Linked DNA regions of Homo sapiens: region 2 is reported to be linked to region 1. The links are microRNA targets in miRTarBase. Many come from high-throughput screens and were not tested one by one. Region 1 holds a microRNA gene; the other region holds the end of a gene's coding sequence.
What was found. Region 1 holds the annotated microRNA hsa-miR-6819-3p (AAGCCUCUGUCCCCACCCCAG, at 1,011-1,031, shown strand). A microRNA usually pairs through its seed, bases 2 to 8, with sites in the 3' UTR of a target mRNA and lowers its output. Matches are read on the target gene's strand: a 7mer-m8 pairs with bases 2 to 8, a 7mer-A1 pairs with bases 2 to 7 and ends in A, and an 8mer does both.

Region 1 (3,146 bases):
GTGTGGGACACATACTTGGAAATCTTCACCTCACTAATAATTAAAGAATAATTAACACGTAAAAACAGCTCTGATACGCCATATCATGTAACAAGAATAACCTTAGTTTAACAAATTTTTTTTTGTTTGTTTGTTTGAGACGGAGTCTCGCTCTGTCGCTCAGGCTGGAGTGCAGTGGCATGATCTCGGCTTGCTGCAAGCTCCGCCTCCCGGGTTCACGCCATTCTCCTGCCTCAGCCTCCCCAGCAGCTGGGACTACAGGCGCACGCCGCCACGCCCGGCTAATTTTTGTATTTTTAGTAGAGACGGGGTTTCACCATGTTAGCCAGGATGGTCTCAATCTCCTGACCTTGTGATCCACCCGCCTCGGCCTCCCAAAGTGCTGGGATTACAAGCATGAGCCACTGCGCCCGGCCAAAAAAAAAATGTTAAGTGTAAAAAAAAAACCCACAAAAACTTTAAAACTTCATTGTGGTCAAGGTTGTGGGCATAGATGCTCTGATTGCTGGTGGCATTTTTTTACTGGTGTGGTCGGGCTGCACACAGCCAGTCACTCTCTTTGATTTGGGGAATCTCAATTTCGGATTTATCTGCAAAAGGAAAAAAAGGCTATTTGACAAAGGTCTTTAGTGTTAAAAGAAGTAACAGGAGAATAACAAAAGGAAAGGTGTTTCCTGCCTGTGGTGGGGATGGACCGGCAGGCTGGGCACTGGTTTTGAGTGGCAGGTGCGCATTAGGGGTGGCACCATGGGCACTGGCTTCCGGCCCACAGGAGGGGACAGAAAGTAGAAAATGAAGCTCAGCTTGGGCTCACGTCCACGGTGACGAACACTGTCAAAGTGTGCATTACGGGGTGGGATACACAGATGATTGTCTTTAGTTGCCTTTTTGCCCTGTCACCACGGTTAGTTGGTTAAATACAGCATTGAGTGGAGCACCAGCCATGAGCCCTGTTGGCGAGGTGACCCATGAGGGTTGGGGTGGAGGGCCAAGGAGCTGGGTGGGGTGCCAAGCCTCTGTCCCCACCCCAGGCCCAGATGAAGGACTGCATGCGCGAGCTGGATGACACCCGCGCCTCTCGTGAGGAGATCCTGGCCCAGGCCAAAGAGAACGAGAAGAAGCTGAAGAGCATGGAGGCCGAGATGATCCAGTTGCAGGAGGTGGGTGGGGCTGCAATGGAGAGCGGCACCGCTGCCCTGCGGCCAGCAGGTGGCAGCGTGGGGCTTTCAGCTGAGGACAGGGCTGGAGTCCTACTGGGCTCCAGGAATTGGCTGGGGATGGCTCTCAGGTTACATAAGGATTCCCTCCAGGGTTCCGTTTCATAGCGGGGCTCCCTCGTATGATCAGAGTGTGTGTGTGTGTGAAACTGGCATCCCTCACATGAGATGAGGCTTTGTGGCCACCACCACCTCCTGCTGTGAATGCTGCCTGGTGAGAAGGGGTCTGAGCGTCCCCTCGGCCGCCCTGCCCGTCGCACCTGAGCCCGTCCTGAAGTGTTTCCCAGGTCTGGAGGGTGCCCTGCAGCGTGATGTGCCGGCTGCGAGTGCGTCCAGGGTGTAGCCATCTGCCTGTGGCCTCCAGAGCTGACTCCAAGCTCTGGCTTACCCAGAACAGGGAGGGGCCGCCCTGAGTGACTCTGTCCACGTGGTCTCCCTGGTTAGGCCAGGACACTTCTTACTTATCGCCATACCCTGGCACCTGGCTTGATTCCTAGCACTTAAATGTAAGAGTTTTATAAACATATGGTGTTTAAGCTATATCTTCAGGGGGGCACCAGCCCTGTGAGCTAGAGGGTTTCTGGAGGAAGGGCTTCGTGGGGAGGTGGGCCTGGGGAAGGGCTTGAGGGGAGGGTGCCTGGGGCTGGGAAGGATGGTCTTGTGGGGCTGTGGCTGCCTTTAGGTCACACTCTGGGTCTTTGTGGCAGGAACTGGCAGCCGCGGAGCGTGCCAAGCGCCAGGCCCAGCAGGAGCGGGATGAGCTGGCTGACGAGATCGCCAACAGCAGCGGCAAAGGGTGAGCTGAGTGAGGGGGCAGAGTTGGGGGGGACCAGGTGTGTCCCCAGGGTAGGCCCCTCACTTCTCCCGCCCACCCCGCAGAGCCCTGGCGTTAGAGGAGAAGCGGCGTCTGGAGGCCCGCATCGCCCAGCTGGAGGAGGAGCTGGAGGAGGAGCAGGGCAACACGGAGCTGATCAACGACCGGCTGAAGAAGGCCAACCTGCAGGTGGGTGCCAGGACTTCTCCCACTCTGGGCTCTGGCTGGAGCCACCACGGCAGAGCTGGCCTTGGACCCAGCCGGCAGAAGCACAGGCCAAGTGCCAGCTGCTCCCCAGGCGCTTAGGGGAAAATGTCCAGGCACCTGGACCTGAAAGGTCCCCCTCTGGCTTCTGTGTTGGGTGTTCAGAAGTTTCTAATCTTCCCTTTTCTGGGAGACCCAAGACTCTGGACCCCAAGGGTTTGGTGGGATCCTGCTGCCACCTTCCTCTGGCCCTGCTCATGCCCTCCAGCCAGGGCCCCAGCCCTCCCCAAGGTCACTGGCCCTTCTTCTGCAGATCGACCAGATCAACACCGACCTGAACCTGGAGCGCAGCCACGCCCAGAAGAACGAGAATGCTCGGCAGCAGCTGGAACGCCAGAACAAGGAGCTTAAGGTCAAGCTGCAGGAGATGGAGGGCACTGTCAAGTCCAAGTACAAGGCCTCCATCACCGCCCTCGAGGCCAAGATTGCACAGCTGGAGGAGCAGCTGGACAACGAGACCAAGTACGTGCCCCTGGCCCCGCCCAACCCCAGCTGTCCTGGAAAAAACTCTGGCCCCCCTGCAGTCCTGCCCAAATCTGGGCCACAACCAGCTCTCTGTCTCCTGAGCCTGGGGCTGTTTCCCTCCCTCCTGATGGGGCCCTCATCCCTTCCACAGGTTGGGTGGTTGGGGGAGCTTGTGGGGTTTGAACAGGATTCTCTGTTCCACCTCTAAAGCCAGGAGTTTTGGTGGCTGTGTCTGAGAGTGAATCAGAGCAGGAGGTACAGGGGGGTCCTGCCCACTAGGACAGTTGTCCTATGGGCTCAGCAGGACTGAGACTTCCTTGGAGGGAATGGGGTTTACAGTAGGCCCCCAGACCTCTTTTCCAGTTACATAGATGCTCTTTGAGGTG
Region 2 (3,000 bases), not on the chromosome of region 1:
TCTAAGCAGTCTTTACCAACTGGATTCTGCCAAGCCCTAGGGTTCCCTGGAAGTGCAGTGAGTGGGGAAGTAGGGCACTGAAAGGCAGAGCTCTCGGTTCTGCACTTCAACCACAGCGCCCTTTATGTACCGAGCTTCCTTACAAAACTCCATCTGAACCCAGTGCGCAATAGCAAAATGACAAACTGGGATCACATTACGGATGCTCAACTTATGATGGGGCTACATCCTGAGAAACCCAGCACACGTTGAAAATATTGTAAGTTGAAATTGCATTTCATACACCTAACCTACTGAACATCATAGCTTAGCCTAGTGACCTTAAACATGCTCCGAACACTTACATTAGCCGACAGTTGAGCAAAACCATCTGACACAAAGCCTCTTTTATAATGAAGTGTTGAATATCTCATATGACTTATTGAATACTGAAAGTCAAAAACAGAATGATTGTATTGGTACTCAAAGTACGATTTCTACTGAATGAATATTGCTTTTTTTTTTTTTTTTTTTTGAGACAGTCTTGCTCTGTCACTCACACTGGAGTGCAGTGGTGTGATCTCGGCTCACTACATGTTCCGCCTCCTGGGTTCAAGCGATTCCCCTGACTCAGCCTCCCAAGTAGCTGGGATTACAGGCATGCACCACCATACCCAGCTAATTTTTGTATCTTTAGTAGAGATGGGGTTTCATCATTTTGGCCAGGTTAGTCTCGAACTCCTGACCTCAGGTGATCTGCCCGCCTCAGCCTCCCAAAGAGCTGGGATTACAGCCATGAGCCACCATGCTCAGCCTGAGTCTTGCTTTTGCACCATCGTAATGTTGAAAAATTGTTAAGTTGAACTGTCATAAGTTGGGGACCATCTGTAGTTTGAAAAGTACACCCTGTTAAGACTTTTAAAGGTGAAAAGCCAGCTTCATCTCCAGGTCTTCCCTGCCCTGCTTCACTGATGCCTGCTGTTCTCTGCAGTGAGAAAGGAAACCTCGGCAAGTTCTCTGGCCTCTCTAGATGTGTTTCTTATGAAGCAAAAACCAAAACCCTGTCTTATTGTAAATTCTCAATTATATCATTTTTTCAAGCCAGGACCAAAAATCCCTACCATTCATCGTCACCATCATTTCATAAAGAACATTTTAATGTAAAAAGTACAAGTCAAAGCTTTATGAAAAACAGTCCCTCATTTTCCTTATTTTGCTCTCCACTGGTGAAACTTTCTCATGAACTAACACTGGAGTGTGTGCTAAACTGGTCCAGCCTCCTCATCAAATGCCCCAAGGGCTCCAGGTGGCCATTTGGCCAAGGCTGACCATCTTCAATGGCTGGCCATGGCATTCTATCCTTAAATGCTTCATCTTCGGAGCTTAAGCAATAAACTGGTACAATGGAAAATGCATGGATTTTAGAGTCAGGACTGGGTTCAAATACTGTCTCTCATCCTCACAGGCTATTGAGCATTTGAAAAATGGGTAGTGCAACTGAAGAACTGCTTTTTTATTTAAATTAATTTAAATTTAGATGGCCACATGTGGCCAATTGGGCAGCGCAGGTCTAGACACTATATTTCCTATTAAGGTAGTTTATGGCCACATCAGTGTTTTGGAGTAACTATCTCATTCTGCCAACTTGGCAGTGTTCTCTAAACCAACTGAAATCTTCTAAGTCTTCCTCATTTGTACGTAGGCAATCAGATCTTTGTTTCTAAATGTAGCAAGTTACATTCATCTCTGTTAACCTTCATCTTACATTTAGTCTATTGCTTCAGTTTTTAAGCAACAGAAACAATCTTTAATAGAAACTTAATTTTTATTTATTTGAGACAGGGTCTTGCTCTGTCACCCACGCTGGAGTGCAGCAGTGTGATCATAACTCACTGCAGCCTTGACACCCTGGGCTCAAGTGATCCTCCCACCTTAGCCTCCCAAGTAGCTGGGACTGCAGACATGTGCCATCATGCCTGGCTAACTGTTGTATATTTTTTTGTAGAGATGGGGTTTTGCTATGTTGCCCAGGCTGGTCTTGAACTTTTAGGCTCAAGCATTCCTTTGGCCTTGGAGTATCTGTAGCAAGTGATAATGCATATCCTGAGAGCTAGAAGATTTTTCTTTAATTTTTCATCACTGTGGCATGACTATACCTACATCACCACAATCAGACTTTTTCTCAACCTCACATACTACAGAAGCATCTGCTGGAAGGGTGAGGAGAGGGCACAATACTTGTGGCTCCTTTCTCATCTAGTAGGACTAGGCTACTGATTTCAGATACAGACTCAAACGGAAATGAGTGGTAAGAGTCAGGAGTTTTAGGTATGAGGCTGATGCCAGGTAAGTTTTTATTATATTTAGAAAAAAAATGTAACTGGAAATAAAGGTAAGTCATTTAAAATGAATGAGAGTTTTTAAACCCCTATAATTCTTTAATGGCAGCATTTGGGTCCACTGCCCAAGCCACTTTTAACCCAACCAAGATGCTGGAAAGCAGAGCACACAGTTGTGCCCACCAAGCCCAGGAGGGCGATGGACCCCAGGGCTCCTCGACTACGCTTGCTGGGTTCTGAAAAAGAAGAAAGAACAGAAGTTACCAGGAGTGCTCCAGAATTATGATGCTTTCAACATTCGCAAGCCATTCTATCATCGCATCTGAGGTTGTACATTAGACAAACTGGCCTTAGGAGGTTAACTAACTCTTTAGCCTGAAGCTGTTGGCAAGTCAGATACCACATGCCAAGTAACGTGCCACAGTAGTATTGCTTGGATCTTAGAAAATTATGGGATAATAATTACAGCAACTTTGCTCTAGGACCTTTGGAAGGAGTTCCCTCTGTTTCAAAGAAGTACAGCTAAAAATGGCTTTTCCTCCTCCTTACTCAGATATAGGAGGTATAGTAATGGTGAGGCTCTGGAGTCGGACTGCATGGGTTTGATTCCTAGTTTACTAGTTTACGCTTAGTAGCTCTGTGACCTACAGCTTTAATCATGCTGAGTCCCAGTTTCCTAATT

Region 2: miRTarBase lists MGST3 as a target of hsa-miR-6819-3p. Seed matches in the 3' UTR shown: 7mer-A1 at 1,913-1,919.

What each region holds. Positions count from the first base shown.
Region 1 is chr22:36,284,732-36,287,877 of GRCh38, reverse strand. It overlaps MIR6819 (microRNA 6819), which reads left to right and starts at 971; the gene lies at 971-1,031. It overlaps MYH9 (myosin heavy chain 9), which reads left to right. Exons shown (of 41, transcript NM_002473.6): 35 at 1,032-1,160; 36 at 1,925-2,013; 37 at 2,097-2,220; 38 at 2,549-2,757. RefSeq lists an enhancer at 970-1,482.
Region 2 is chr1:165,654,922-165,657,921 of GRCh38, reverse strand. MGST3 (microsomal glutathione S-transferase 3) reads right to left here. Exons shown (of 6, transcript NM_004528.4): 6 at 1,786-2,554. The coding sequence ends at 2,418. Among named protein-coding and RNA genes, the nearest start is that of MGST3, 25 kb to the right of the region's middle. RefSeq lists a silencer at 690-856.